2 separate regions of the Homo sapiens genome follow, and region 2 is linked to region 1. Evidence: fine-mapped expression QTL. Tissue or cell type: whole blood. Region 1 holds a variant in brackets; the other region holds the start of a gene. All regions are shown on one strand. Distances are between the middles of the regions.

The links. PIP is the estimated chance that this variant, and not a neighbour inherited with it, causes the effect.
Region 2: PHF21A starts here. The variant in region 1 is fine-mapped to the expression of PHF21A in whole blood (INTERVAL, PIP 0.96).

What each region holds. Positions count from the first base shown.
Region 1 is chr11:45,972,002-45,980,001 of GRCh38, forward strand. It overlaps PHF21A (PHD finger protein 21A), which reads right to left. Exons shown (of 19, transcript NM_001352027.3): 7 at 7,759-7,965. Among named protein-coding and RNA genes, the nearest start is that of LARGE2, 53 kb to the left of the region's middle. The variant T/TAAAACAAAACAAAAC (reference allele first, on the strand shown) is at 3,376.
Region 2 is chr11:46,117,240-46,125,382 of GRCh38, forward strand. It overlaps PHF21A (PHD finger protein 21A), which reads right to left and starts at 4,215. Exons shown (of 19, transcript NM_001352027.3): 1 at 3,696-4,215. It overlaps LOC105376661 (a long non-coding RNA gene), which reads left to right and starts at 4,906. Exons shown (of 3, transcript XR_931252.4): 1 at 4,906-8,143. RefSeq lists silencers at 2,274-2,431, 2,615-2,674, 2,745-2,824, 4,238-4,297, 4,738-5,047.

The DNA.
Region 1 (8,000 bases):
CAGATAATGAAACATGTTAGCCAATGAGTATATAGTAAATACCAGTTCTTGATACTAAAGGGATATTATGAGTTACTACCTATAATCTTTTCTCTGGAGAACTGCTGCAGAAGTGATCAAAGATGCAATGAAACATGACAAGGTGAAAACAAACATCTGAGTTTTAAAAGCCTGAGAGATCAGAAGATGAACTGAGGTGAGAGGACTTGACTGATGCTCCTTAAGTGCTATTGCAGCTTTGAAGCTGTACTTTTCTAGACTTTTTACTAGAATAATTAAAGGAATCAGTTACAAAACAAACAAAAAAATATAAACAAACTCATTATATGGCCTAAACATCTATCTGGAGATAGATCAACATTTCAGGAACATGAAAATTTATCTGGTCAAACTCATTGATTCTGATTTTGATACTACTCCACCTTTACTGTATATTTGCACTGTCTGATTTGGCAGCCACTAGCCACAAGTTGCTATTTAAAAGGAAATTAATTGGCCAGGCGCAGTGGCTCACACATGTAATCCCAGCACTTTGGGAAACCGAGGCAGGTGGATCGTCTGAGGTCAGGAGTTCGAGACTAGCCTGGTCAACATGGCGAAAGCCCGTCTCTACTAAGAATACAAAAAGTAGACCAGGTGCGGTGGCTCGTGCCTGTAATCCCAGCACTTTGGGAGGCCGATGCGGGTGGATTGCCTGAGGTCAGGAGTTCGAGACCAGCCTGGCCAACATGGTGAAACCCCATCTCTACTAAAAATACAAAAATCAGCCAGGCCTGGTGGCAGGCACCTGTAATCCCAGCTACTCGGGAGGCTGAGGCAAGAGAATTGCTTGAACCCGGGAGGCGGAGGTTGCAGTGAGCAGAAATTGTGCCACTGCACTCAGCCTGGTGAGAGAGCGAGTCTCCGTCTCAAAAACAAAAAAAAAAATTAGCCAGGTGTGGTGGCAGGCGCCTGTAATCCCAGCTACTCGGGAGGCTGAGGCAGGGGAATCACTTGAACCCGTGAGGCAGAGGCTGCAGTGAGCCGAGATCACACCATTGCACTCCAGCCTGGGCGACAAGAGTGAGACTTCGTCTCAAAAAAAAATAAATAAATAAAAATAAAAACTAAATTAATTAAATGTAATTAATTAAAACAAAAACAAAATTAAAACATCAGCTCCTCAGTTGCACTAGCCACATTTCAAATGTCAAAAGTCGCATGTGGTTAGTGGTGACCAAACTGGACAGTGGAGATAGACGGTATTTCCAACATCACAGAAAGTTCTATCACTGTGCAATACCAGTGAAAAGTACCTCCATTCTCTCAGAAACACATCTGGACAACTTCCCTTATGAATTTCTATTTCAGTGTCTATGCTTTTCTACTTAGGGGTATTAAGTTGTTTGCTTCTAGGGAGTTACTTATCTCTATTTTTCTGCCTTATGCGCATATACACATATTATCTAATCTTTTAAGATCATCATCCAAATCTTTGTTTCCTCTTCGCTAAGTGGCTTATTCTCTTTGCCATTGCCTCCTTAAATGTGAAATGAGAGTAAACGCGGAACACTGATATTTATTTTGGGGTGCAGTGGATCACCTATCTTCGATCAGTGATGAAAACCAAATAAAAGCCAAATGCTATTTATTATTAGAAATGGTATATTAATAGTAGTGTAACAGCAAGGACTGACTGCATTATCAGCAATTTGTAGTAAGTGTTTTTACCACAGTGTATTAGCCCTTGTTTTCCATTTAAAACATGTCGATTTAAAGAACTTCTGAAGTGGTGATCCAGTCACACCAGATGGCGTTCAATCCAGTGCTATCGTGGATTGTGGGAGTAAAGCTCTAGTCAGAACTCACTGACATGGATTTTAAAGAAACGCATGTTGTTACTGCTTTAAGAGAAGTCAATGTACTTTTGTTTCAAGTAAATCATCAATATTTTGAATAACTCTAAACTGATGATTCTACAAAATACTGACTAAAGCCTCAAACTCACCTGAATTATATACTTACCATTAACCCAACACTTTAAAAACACTGAAACCTAACAAGTTTGTTCACATCTTAGGTTAGCAGTTTTCTTTTATTTTACAACTATGGTTATGGCTGATTTCACTACATGATTTCTAGCATCTACATACCTGTTTGTCTAGTATACAGGCACAAGACCTAGTACTGTATGCTTCAGTGAAAACTTTTTGAAGAATATATTTACTATTTATTGACACCAAGACCCAGGTAGTGCTTAGATCTTTACCCCTACTCTGGTGCTTCTTCTTTCCCAAGTATTAGGGAACACAAACCAAACTCCTGGGTTTAGATGACAAAAGGAATTTAGAACTTTGAAATCCAAGTCTAATTAAAATGTCTGAACTGTTCTGGAAGGAGGAAGAAGAGACATAGAGAAGAAAGGTGTCAAACGACAAATTATTATTATTATTATTATTATTATTATTATTATTGCTGTTTATTTATTTTTGAGACAGGGTCTTGCTCTGTCACCCAGGCTAGAGTGCAGTGGCGTAATCACAGCTCACTGCAGCCTTGACCTCCTGGGCTCAAGTAATCCTCCCATCTCATTCTCCTGAGTACCTTGGACTAAAGGCAGGTGCTACCACACCTGGCTAATTTTTTTTATTTTTAGTAGAGACGTGATCTCGCTATGTTGCCCAGGCTGGTCTAGAACTCGCTCTCACGTAATCCTCCCACATCGGCCTCCCAAAGTGTTGGGATTACAGGCATGAGCCACCACACCCAACCAAGAGATTTATTTATATGAAAGCTGTGATTTGTTTTTAGCTAGTTAACAGTGTCTAAGTATGATCACCTTTAAGAGAAGGTAGCTGTTTCTCCACAGTTTCATGATGGGGTCCTTTATTTTGACAAAACCCAAATTGCATGAGCTAGAAGTTAATGCAGAAATACATGGCATGGCAAATACTGCCAATAGCAAAATCCTTTTTATTTATTTATTTATTTGCTAAGTCATTGTTGTCTGCCTGCCAAATATGAAGTATTGATTTAAAACAGATGGACTCAGGCTGGACACAGTGGGTCATGCCTATAATCCCAGCACTTTGGGAGGCTAAGGTGGGCGGATCACTTAAGCCTAGGAGTTTGAGACCAGCCTTGGCAACATAGTGAAACTCCACCTCTACAAAAAATACAAAAATTAGTTGGGCATGGTGACACACACCTGTAGTCCCAACTACTTGAGAGGCTGAGGTGGAAGGATCACCTAAGCCTGGGAGGTCAAGGCTGAGGTGAACCGTAATTGCACCATTGCACTCCAGCCTAGGTGACACAGTGAGACCCTGTCTCAAAGAAAACAAAATAAAATAAAATAAAATAAAATAAAATAAAATAAAATAAAATAAAATAAAA[T/TAAAACAAAACAAAAC]AAAACAAAACAAAATAAAATAAAACAGATGAACTCCAATATACAAATCAGAATTTAAGGGATTATTACTATGGGATCTAACTTCCACATCTGTTTTATATTATTTTGCTGGTTTAATTTTGAATGCAGTCATGATGTATACTCAAACAACCACAAATAGAAACTTTTCCCTTTTTTGTCTCCAAAGGTTTGTTTTCCATTTGGTTTTATTAACTGCTTTCTTCTTTACATTTGCATTATGCCATTAAAAATTAGAGGGCTGTGAATATAGGTTGGAGAGTATACCTGTATTTAACTGTTCTATTCTTTCACTTTTTCTGTAGATTGGAAAACTTTTAAAATACACCTATAAGCATGAGTTGACGTTAACTAAGTAAAGCAAACTGTTCCCATTCCCTCTCCCAAAAAGAATTCCTCATTGCTTTCTCTACGCCTTGGTATATGCCAATCACCCGACTTAGAATAAAAAACTTTCTCCTCTTAGCATCTCCCCCTGGCCCCCCGATTGCTACTTAATATTTAATTCTTTCTGAAGTTGTGTATTTAATATATGCCATATATAACCTCCCATTCGTCCTTGCCCTCATACATTAAATATATGTATTTAATATATGCCATATATAACCTCCCATTTGTCCTTGCCTTAGACTTCCCTATGACTGTTAAAAAACCCAGAAGCTCTGGCATGCTTTGGAGGGCTTGGCCTTATCTCCTCTCCATCGTTTCGTGGATCACACACTCCAACCACACCAGCCTACTTACGATTCCCAGGGCATACATTTACTATTTTGACGCCATCCTTTTGTTCATACTACTCTCTATACTTGTGAAGCTCTTTCCCCTTTGCTCTATCACTAAAATCCCATTCATCTGACAGGGCCCTGCTCAGATGCAACCCTCCTTGACAAGTACTTTCTGATCCCTCTAGTCAAAATTACTCTGTCCTCAAAATTTCTCTACATCTTAAATTTTTTTAATTCTTGAAAATAGAAACTCTCTGATTTGTGAATTTAGTCTCCACATTACCTAGAACAGTGCTTGCACACAGTAGGAACTCCACAAATATTTACAGAATGAATAAAAATTATTAATAATGATATACCAGACTTTTGGCAGGGACCACTGCTCTTTGTATACCAGAATCTACCACATAGATTGGTAGTACCAATAAATAGGTTAGTAGTGCCAAGCGCAGTGGCTCATGTCTGTAATCCCAACACTGTGGGAGACCGAGATGGGTGGATCACTTGAGCTCCGGAGTTTGAGACCAGCCTGGCAAACATGGTGAAACCCTGTTTCTACAAAAAATACAAAAATTAGCTGGGCATGGTGGCCTGTGCCTGTAGTCCCAGCTACCCGGGAGGCTGAGGTGGGAGGATGGCTTGGGGCAGGGGTTTCAGTGAGCTGAGATTGTGCCACTGCACTCCAGCCTGGGTCAAAGAGCCAGATCCTGTCTAAAAAACAAACAAACAAACACCAAAAACCAGATTTGTAGTTTACCTGTAAACTCAAAAACCAAAAACTCAGAGGATCCTTTTGGTTTTTAACATTAAACATTTGCATCATTTGCATTAAATAAAACAATATTTAAAAAAGGTTGGCAAAATCAATTAAATATGTCAGGTGGGCTACTGGATGGAGAGGTGCTATACAACACTGTTTTGGAGGCAGCCCTGGGCCTCTTACCATTCACCATCCCAAAGCAACACAGACTACCAGGGAAAGGAAAAGCTATTATATTTTGGAAATGCTTCCTTTGATTTTTTTTTTTTTTTTTTTTTGAGATGGAGTCTTGCTCTGTCGCCCAGCATGGAGTGCAGTACGATCTCGGCTCACTGGAACCTCTGTTGCCCGGGTTCAAGTGATTCTCATGCCTAAGCCTCCTGAGGAGCTGGGATTACAGGTATATGTTACCACGCATGGCTAATTTTTGTATTTTTAGTAGAGATGGAGTTTTGCCATGTTGGCCAGGCTGGTCTCAAACTCCTGACCTAAAGTGATCCACCCACCTCGGCCTCCCAAAGTGTTGGGATTACAGGCGTGTGCCACTGTGCCTAGCCTCCTTTGATTTTTATAACATAAAATGTTACTTGAACAGGATGTTTCCATGGGTTAAGACAGAAAACTCCTATGTAACAGGAAACAATGAATTCTACCACACTCCTTTCAGATAAACATTTTCTGATCAACCTGTACTTTGGAAAGAGAACAACCTAACCCAATTCTGTTTAAAACTTAAACAAAAATTATCCTCTAAACATTCTTTCAGAACTAATACAAGTGCTGGTAAGGAGATTTTTAAAGTCAGTTTTGAATGCCTAATTTCCAAATAGCCTTGGGGTGGTGATTAGGGTAAAAATTTATGTAGGCTGTCCTAGCTATCTGATTTACAACAGGGATTTTTCTTTTTCCTTCTTTGGTTTTATACAGTATTGGTATTGCTTTTTTCTTTTTTTTCTTCTTCTTCTTTTTTTTTTTTTGGTATTGAATGGCAGTACAGAAGAGTAGTTGAATGGACCTATTTTTCAGCCAGAACATCTAGGTTCAAATCTTAGCTACACCACATACCACCCTCCATGATCTTAGGTAAATTATGTAACCTCTCTGTGCCTTAGTTTTCTCTTCTAAAAAACAGAGATGGTGGGCCGGTTGCGGTGGCTCACACCTGTAATCCTAGCACTTTGGGAGGCCGAGGCGGGCAGACCACGAGGTCAGGAGTTCGAGACCAGCCTGGCCAATATGGTAAAACCCTGTCTCTACTAAAAATACAAAAATTAGCCGGGCATGGTGGCACGCGCCTGTAGTCCCAGCTACTCAGGAGGCTGAGGCAGAAGAATTGTTTGAACCCAAGACGGTGGAGGTTGCAGTGAGCCAAGACTGCGCCACTGCACTCCAGCCTGGGTGACACAGTGAGACTCCGTCTCAAAAAAACAATAACAAAAAAACAAACAAACAAAAAAACAGAGATGGTAATAATAATAACTTCCTCTTAGGATTAGGGTGAGGAGTATGTCCATTATGTAAAACACTTAGGAGACTGCCAGTATACAGTAACCTCTATTAAATGTTAACTTATCTTTAGTGTTCTTATAAAAAATTCATTCTTTACTTGCAAAATGTTGCACATGAACCAGTCCAATGTCCATAAACAGTGAACAGCCAACTGAACTATACTCTTTTTCTCTCTATATAAAGACACAGTGAAGACCTGGTGTTGGTTGTAAGAGGTATCCACGCTTAGGTTTCAGAGGATCCCAAAGTCCTTGAAGTGTGCAAAAATGAGTGTATTAAGTGTGAATGTATATTCTTCTGGAGAGGGATCTATAGCTTTCAACAGAGTCATAAAGGGATCTGTGACCTTCAAGGATCCAAGTATCATTTGGAATATCATTTCCAAATACGCCCTTTTTGTGTATCTTGATTGCCTCACGATTCTTAAATTGTATGCTTGTTTAAATGCCCTTTTTGGTAAAAACATTTGCACAGCTACACCAAGTTAGAATTTTATTAAGCTCCCATTTCTTTAGTTTTGACCTGTAGCTTTCATTTCAGATTCCCATCAGTGTATTAGAACAAATACATTTTCTTATAAATATGGGCTTAAAAATGAGTGTTTCTATGAATAGTGCAAATATAGCACTCTTCTTTTTTTTTTTTTGAGACGGAGTTTTGCTCTGTTGCCCAGGCTGGAGTGCAGTGGTGTGATCTCAGCCCACTGCAGCCTCTGCCTCCTGGGTTCAAGTGATTCTCCTGCCTCAGCCTGCCGAGTAGCTGGGATTACAGGCGCCTGCTACCAGGCCTGGCTAATTTTTTTGTATTTTTAGTAGAAATGAAGTTTCACCACGTTGGCCAGGCTGGTCTCAAACTCCTGACCTCAAGTGATCTGCCCACCTCAGCCTCCCAAAGTGCTGGGATTACAGGCATGAGCTACTGAGCCCAGCCATAGCACCCTTCCAAATGCTTCTTTCTATCTGGTCCCAAGAGCACTGATCCTGGAATAGCTCTATGCCTAGTTGCTAAGAATTCCAGAAGAGGTCAAGTCACAAACTTTTAGAACAAGTGTAAATAAATACCTCCAAAAATTCAAAATAAGGTTTTAATTCTGCTGTAAAGCAGATAATTGATTTTTGTTATTGACTACCTTTCTCCCCTTCTTCAGACAGGTGGGAAATCATTTAATTTTTGCTTCTTAGTAATGTTATTTCCTTCTGCCAATGATTACAAGTGATACTTATCTGGGTTATACTGTAAAAAAGCAATCAAAATAACTTTTGTTTAGTTCTAGCTGAGCTTAGTATAGTGTGAGACAGGACCCAGTTCTATATGACCAACAACAAATCAGTCTACAATCTGCAGCCTGCAATGTTCCATCCACACATTTACCTGTGAAGCAGTCAGGTTGGGAGAGGCTGCAGCTGACTGCTGGGCGTGGTGGTGGTGGTACTGCTGCTGTTGTTGTAGTTGCTGTAGTGGTTGCTGCTGTGCTGTTTGTAGTTTGTTTTCAGATTGTGGCAATGGCTGTATTTGGAACTTGTCCGGTTGTTCTTGCTTTACTATCAGGTTCTTCCGTAGCTGTTCAACTACTCTTTTCTACCAAATGAAGACAAAAAGAAATAAAAGATATT
Region 2 (8,143 bases), 150 kb after region 1:
CCCAAATTTTTAAAACTTCGACACAAAACTTTACAAGCAACCACAGTGGCATGATATTTTCAGTGATAATCAATTCACCTAACACTAACAGAGTTTCAAAGGACCATGTGCTATAAATGCTATGAAACTGTTAAAGTAGCTATATTCATCTTTATGCAGTTACTGTTACATCAACAATGACCTACCACTGATACAACTTGACTTACAGTTCAAGAATCTCAGTCTTTGCAGGCTAACTTAAGTACATCAACCATATGTATTTATAAAGCCGAGTGCCTAAAAATTGATCTATATTAGAATCATAGTCTGTAAATCCGAGGGGAAAAAACTACAAGAAGTCTAAAATTTTTTCAACACACTATACCCCTTTCCAAAATCTCAACTACTCTATATCCTATTTGTATTAATATTATAGGGATGATAACAAGGCTTAAAGCCCTAAATCATACCAACTACTTTTGTTTATAACAATTACAAATAATTTTTTAAAATACATGCTCAACATCCCACTCATCAACACAAGACTAATTCCCCTTCCAAATAAAATAATTCTAAACAGTGCTCTGTACCAAGGGCCAGAATCCTTATACTATCCGCAATCGCACATCTACTTTGTACAGTCAAAGACTTCACTTTCAAGTAGCAAACATTATTTATGAATGGAATTTTTAAATGGACTTACTCAAAATCTTTCTGGAACTTTAAGGTGTTAATCCTGTTGCTTAGCTGAAGCTAAGCAGAGCTGTAATAAGTAGCAAGACCCTCAAAATTCAAAAATTTCCTTTATCTTGCTGTAGCACCTCCTGCTGGATAGCATTTAGAGATCTTCATGTAAGCAGAAGAAGAGTATTTCAGAGGCAGCTCCTTCCAGAAGACTGAATAGGAAAAAGGATGGACCCTTCAAAGCTAAAAGAAATAGGCCCCATCCATCACTTATACCTTCTAAAAATACAATTTAGCCCAGGTAGGTGTCTTTTTCATCTATTACTACTCCAGTTCCACAAAGACTTGCCTCAGTCCAAAATACAACATGCTTAAATAAAGCCTGCAAAATTGTCTAAAAACTAAGTTAAAAAGCATTCAATAGCACCCAAGCAAAACACTTTATTATGGGCAGCCAAGCAATGTCAGTCAAACTGTAAATACTATTATGTTACCAAAAGCAAAAGTCTGATGTTAAAAAAAAAAAAAAAAAAGCCCCTGGAATATTCGTAACATGTTAGCCAGATGTTTGTGTTTTGAGAACTTTGTGCACTATTACTATGCTCTTCACTTAAGGATAGTTGTACATCTACAAACGTTTTAAGTACAGAAATTTTTTTATAAACATTAGCATAACTGTACACAAAATTTCCTCTTTGCCATGAAAAGATAGGTCCTGGGATTTGAAAATGTATTTTTCAGACATTTTTAATGACCCCCTAAAATAAACTAGTTTTAAGCCCACAACACCGATTCCATAAACAAGTAAAGACAGAAGAAGAGAATAAGAAGGAACTTACCAAAATTAAAATGAATAATAGTATTTCCAGTAAAAATGTAGTAACAGTTTCCAACAATGCTGTAAACCAAATAAATTGTGAAACTTAAAAAAGGAAGGAGGGGGCCAGTCTTCAAAGACCAAAAGCAAAGCTGACCTATTTATTTCTATTGCTTAGAGTGAACACCAGATGTAAACAAATATCATAAACACTGAAAAGTACGCTTACATGGTTTAGCCTCAATTTCAGTACCCTTACCAGGCCCTCAATAAAGCTACAGATGTTGGTGAGAACTCGCTCAAAAAGGAGATAATTCCAGCCCCTCGCCTTAAAGAATCCCTATCAAGTGAACCTGTGAAAAGACTTCCTTCCCAGAGTGCACAACTGCTTTAAAAAAAAAAAACTTTCATCAGCCCAAATTAATCTGATTCTAATATTCAACTATCCATTATTTATATATAAATGTTCTTCCCTCTCTAACTTTCCCAGCTCGAGCATCTACATTCCTGACACCGACTATTAGCAAAAATGCACAACTCCTTCCCCAGCTATGGGGCAAATCTTTGAAATCTGAAACACAGCCACAAAGTTCACTGTCAAGGCCAGGTGATGAGGCCCACACATGCCCGGACCTTCACTCAGATTTGAAATTCTAGAAATCCAGACTCCCAGAGACATCATTTTAAAAACAACACAATGTGGACGTGCAGAGTGAGATCCTCTACTTCCAGACCTAAACAAAGAATATTTCAACATATGACCGGAATATGATGACACCAGATTCACCAATGAAAACAAAACCTGCCGACCATTAGCAGTCGTACCCTCATCACAACAACTCAACTACTTAGAAATCACTCTCGGCACATCTGCACCCGACAACCGGCCTGTGGCCTTCTCCGGGGGTGCAAGCCACAGACAAAGTTGAAAGAAGGCGTTCTCCTCCGGTGCCCAATCTCGATACCAACCCCTCCCCTACCAGGGCCACCTTGCTGCTACCCACCATCGCGAACGTGGTCAGGGGAAAAAAAAAAAAAAGAAATCCTAACAGCACCGCTCAGCAGAATAAAGAGACCAAAGAGAGGATGACGAGAAGTGTTGGGAACTGCGTGCACGACGGGGCTGGACCAAACGGAAAGAGTCCCACTCCGCGCGCCCCTCCCCCCGGCGGGGGCGCGGGCGGGGGAGGGGCGGCCGCGGCCCCTCTCGGAGCGGCCTGTCCGCCCCGGCCCGCTCGGGGTCCCGGGGGCGCCCCGCGGCCGCCGGCGGCGGGGGCGAATGCGGGAGGGCCGGCCCCGGGGTGAGGGGTGCAGGCAGACTCTCCGGAATAACAAGTTGCAGAAGAAGAAGAATAAGCGGAATTTCCCCAACGCTGCTCCGGCCACCCAAGACAAATGCACCAACACACTCACACTCACACACACACAAACACACACACTGGGGCCCGGCAGCGTCAGCAGCCGCAGCTTTTTTTTTTTTAAACCAGATCCCTCAGTCAACAAACAAGATGGTTTTCCAAAAAAAAATTTTTTTTAATTAAATAAATAATCATAATAAAAACTTCCCCCCGACAGCATCCCGGGGTGGGGTGGGGGGGATGGAGGAGCCCCAGCTACCTCCCCGGCCGAGGGACAGCCGAGGGGGGGCGGGCGAGGCTCCGTGCCCCCCGCCCCCGCCCGCAGCCCCCGGCCGGCCCCCCGCCGGGACAATGTGACGCCCCCTCCCCGCCGCCCCCGGCACGCCGCCTCTGTCACCGGCTCCGGCCCTGCACTCTGCGCCCAGGCTTCCGAGGCTGCTCATAAACTTACTTCCAATTTATCCTGGGGAGGGGTGGAGGGCAGAGGGGAGGGGGGGGAGCCAAGGTTTTCCCATTGTCTTTTTTTTCGGGGGGGAGGTATGGGAAGGGCACGCAGGGGGGCGCCCCGAAGGGGAAGTTATTGCTCAAATCTCAAGTTGACTGAGGGGTCCTGACGAGAACACCCCCCTTTCCCTCCTCCCTCCCACACACCCCTCCCCTCCCCCTACCTCCCCCCACAACAAACTCCAAGCAGGCAGCCCCTGATCCTCCCAGAGACAAACACCAGCGACAAGACAGAGGGAGAGAGGAGAGAGGCAGAGGGGGAAGGGGGAGGGAGGGGAAATAGAGCTACTCCAGAAAAAAAGAGAGAGAGGAGAGTGAGAAGAAGAGAGAATGGAAAAGCTGGGATACTGCACCCTCCTGCTGCTGGCTGGCTGTCCCCCCTGGCAGCTGGAGGCAGGAACTCTGAGCAGGAGAAGCAGGAGGAGGAGGAGGAGGGAACTCTTCTTCATGGGGAGGGAGGGAAGAAGCTGGAGCTGCTGCTGCTGCTTCTGCTGCTGCTCTGGGCCTCTCGCACTTTTTAGATATTAGTGTGTTAAGATGGTAGGTTGTTCCCTTCTCCCTCCTCCTCCTCCTCCTCTCCTCTCCTCTCTCTCTCACTCACTCTCTCTCTCTCTCTCTCTCTGGGCTGTTTCTTTCCTCCTCTTCCCCAGGCAAGGGGGGGTGGGGAGGAGGGGGTTGGGGGGAGGAACTGGATCCTCCTCCTCCTCCAGGAGGGACACACACAGGCCCCGGGCCGGAATCGGGAGGGGGGAATCAGAGCAGCAGGAGAGAAACTGTAGGAGACAAACAAGCCCAACTCTTCATCCTCCTCCTCCTCTCAGCAGCAGCAGCGAGCACCACCAGCCCATTCACCACCCGGCCCCGGGCCGCAGCACCTCCGCCGCCTCAGCCCGGGGATCCCTCCGCCCAGGCCCAGACACACTCGCCCGCGCGGGAGCCCGCCGCGCGGCCCCGCCGGCCCGCCGCCGCCGCCGCCGTGCGCGCCCCCGCCGCTCCCGAGAGCCGGGCGAGAGGGACTGGGGCTGGGAAAGCGGGGACGAGGGCGAGGGGAGAGGAGGCGCCGGGGGAGAGCGGGCCGCGGCGGGGAGGGAGGGGGCCGCCGGGCGGAGTGGTACGGCGGCCGGCCCGGGCCCCCGCGCCTCGGCCCGCGGCTCCCGGGACGCTCGGGTCCCCCCACCGGGGGCGGTGGGGCGTCGGCGGGGGGGGCGACGGGGGCCCGCGGCGGCGCTCGGGCGGGCGGACTACTTGACGTGTCGGTGCGGCGAATTTATTTCACTTTGCCTAAGGAACGGGGTGTGCTGCGGCACCCATTGCCTAGGGAAAAAACCCGGATGTAAAGTGAGTGAAACTAAACTAGAGTGAAGTAGGGCAGCGGCAGCCAAACTCCAGTGCAGCGGCGGCGGCGGCGGCGGTGATGGGGCCGAGCACCGAGCGGCGGCGAAGGCAGCCAAACTCCGGGGCCCGTGCAGCGCCGCAGCTCGGCTCCCGTGCAGCCGCAGCCGAGGCGAGGCCGGAGCCCGCGGCGGCCCCCCCAACTCCGCGGCCCGAGCCCAACTCCCCCCTCCCGCCGGCGGGAGCTGCAAAGGGGCTCCAGAGCGGCCCCAACTCCCTCCAGTGCAACAGCAGTTTGAAGGGGGGGGGGGAAAGCCGTGAGGGGCAGGAGCGAGGAGAAGTGATGGGGAAGCACTGCAATGGGGGAGCGTGGTCCAGGCAACAGGAGAAAGATGCAACCTCAAGTCGAATGCAACATGCAATCCCCGGCCGCCGCTCGCCCGCTCCCTCCCCTCGCCACCCCGCCCCCTTTCCAAATAACTACCCTTGAACCACTTTATTAGCAGTACTTAGTCCAGCACTCGCTCCCGGGAGGGGCGGGGGACGGGGGCCTTCGCTCACCTTTATTTATTGCTGCTTTCTCCCCCCTCTCCATGTTTTTTATTCCTAAGTTCTTTTGTTCTAAGGGGGATGATGGCATTTACTTTTCTGCTTTGTGTAGCAGGGCAATCACTGGGAATCGGCCACGTATAATCCGGCGGTTTGTCATATTTTATTAGTGAAAGTATTTTATGCCTATTCTACCTCCAAGGACTGTAACATGGAGAATTGCAGGGAGGAGAAAAACATCAGAAGAATTCTTGTTTTGAGAGATTTCTTGGCGGGGCGGGGGAGGGCCTTTTTTTTTTTTTTTGGAGGGGGTTTATTTAGATTTTCGAATCGATAGTTTTCAACTTGAAGCTTAACGTTTTTGTATGGATGTATTACCGGATTCTAAACCCCCAACCACAATAAATTTTTTAAAAGTAAAAAATCTTAGATTAAAAAAAACCCCTACTGGACAGTGATATTATCTGATCTGTGCAGCACTCTGGACTTAACATAGTGTTGGCCTTCGAATGTTAAATAACAATAAACCCCAACCTCAACTGAATACAAATGGGGGGGTGGGGGGTTTTGTTTTTAAAGCTCAGCACTTTTGTAGCAACTGCCACTACGCATTTTCCAGGCATTGATTAGCCATGCAACTCCCATAGGCATGAAATCCAGTTTTTGCAGATAAAGAGCAACAGTGGTGAGATGATTTGCCCAAAGTCAAAGTGAGTCATTCGCAGAACCAGAAATAGCCTTGGACTTTACTAGTCACATCTTTTCCATTAAATAATATTTCTATTACCTTGTTATGTATTTTCACAAGAGGTGCTTTGAGATCATTGGATATGAAGGTATTTTTTTACTTTCGTGACCTGCAAAATTAAGTTTAGTTTCTCAAGAAAAAGCAATTTTTAAAAATTCTGATTTCTTAAAAAATAAAATATGGACTTTATGGTACATGTGTAGGCCATTTAGTAGTCTGAGCTTTATGTTAAAAAAAATTCACAGCAGCGAAAGTGTAAGAGTTTGAGAGTGAAAATGAAAATTCCTATAAATGATTCAAGAAGCCTAGATGAACTCATAATGTTGTGAAACTAAACCCATAACGCAGTCAAGATGAATAACGGGAGGACAGGTTGGGTAGTAAGACCCAGCTTTACCATCTAGAGCTAACTGTAATGTATTTAAAATGAGGGAGGGGGTCTTTCAAGCTGGACCCACTGGCCAGTCACTGGAACTATAACCTAATGGTGTGATTTCAAATCATCCCAGGCTATCAACCTTTTTTCATAGGAAGACTGCTTTGGTGTTCTTTCTGGAAAAAGAAGGTAAAATTTTTTTTGGAATTTCATAGAAAAAAATCCAGAACCTCTAATTGTATCATGCTATAGAACTGGGGTTAGCAAACTTTTTCTGTAAAAGCCCAGATAGTAAATATCGTAGATTTTGCATCCCATACAGTCCCTGTCACAACTTCTCCACTCTATGCTGTTATAACCCAAAAGCATCTATACGACAACATGTAAATGAATGAATCTGGCTATGTTCTAATACAATTTGTATTTATAGGCCTTGACATTTGGATTTAATGTACTTTTCACATGTCTTGAAATATTCTTTTGATTTTTTTCAGTCATTAAGAAAAATTTTTTAAAAAGCACCACATTCCCAGTTTGGGGACTTCACAAAACCAGGCAGTGAGCTGGATGGGGCCCACGGGCTGTCATTTACCAATCCTTGCTATAAAAAAAGACTTAAGGTGGACTAACCACTGAACTTGTACCAAAGGGTGCTTGGTTATTAAGATGTGTGGTAGCAACCAAAAATCAATGTTATGCAAAGTCATTGTCTAGATATTTAATTAAAATATTTTTAGCTGAATATAAGAGTGTCTAACACTCCTGTAACTACCAAACTTAATGGAAAAAAAATACTCTGGAAGTATTGCTCCTTCAACTAAGGCACTTTGGGGCAGGCTGCTTAATCTCTGTTAACAGCCTCAGTTTTCCTATCTTGTAAATTGCAGCTTAGAATACCTACTTCCAGCCCCGGGCAAGGTGTTGCATGCCTGTAATCCCAGCACTTCGGGAGACCGAGGCTGGCGGATCCCTTGAGCTCAGGTGTTCAAGACCAGCCTGGTCAACATGGTGAAACCCTATCTCTACAAAATGTGCAAAAATTAGCTGGGCATGGTGCCACGCACCTGTAGTCCCTGCTACTCTGGAGACTGATGTGGGAGGATCACTTGAGCCCAAGGGGTTGAGGCTGCAGTAAGCTGAGATTGCTCCACTGCACTCCAGCTGGGTGACAGAGTGAGGCCCTGTCTCAAAAACAACAACAAAAACCCTACTAAGTAGGGCTCTCGAGAAGACTGAATAAAATAATTCATGTAACGTGCTTAGCACAGTCCTGGCACATAGAACTGTATAATGCATTTTCACTGTGCCCTTAAATTCATTTTCTTAGTTAACATAACTCAAGAAGGTGAACAGGTGGCATCCCAGTATTTTGATGGTGCAGATGTGCATGTGGGATTCAGGGACTCTCGTGTTGATTGAAGATTGTGAGGTTGGCATTATAAGCTTTGGTGGGTCTTTCTCAAGCTCTCAGCATCTCTGTGTGCTTGACACAGGCACTCTGTGGGCACACACTAGCTCTGTGGCCTTATACAAAATACCTAGGCTTTCTGAACCCTGGTGTTCCTTAAACATAAAGATAATACCTTGTGAGATTGTTGTAAGGGCTAAATGGCTTAAGTGTTAAAGGAAAAAAGATAACAATTAGTATGTTAGCAGAAATTCCAGAAATAAGCTAGAAATTGAAAGTTTACTGTCAAAAGCTGCTTTGAGACATTCAACTTTTAGACATGAATGACATAATCATAGCAGGTGCACAATAACTTAAAATTTGCTCTCCTGCCACCTAGTTACCCTTC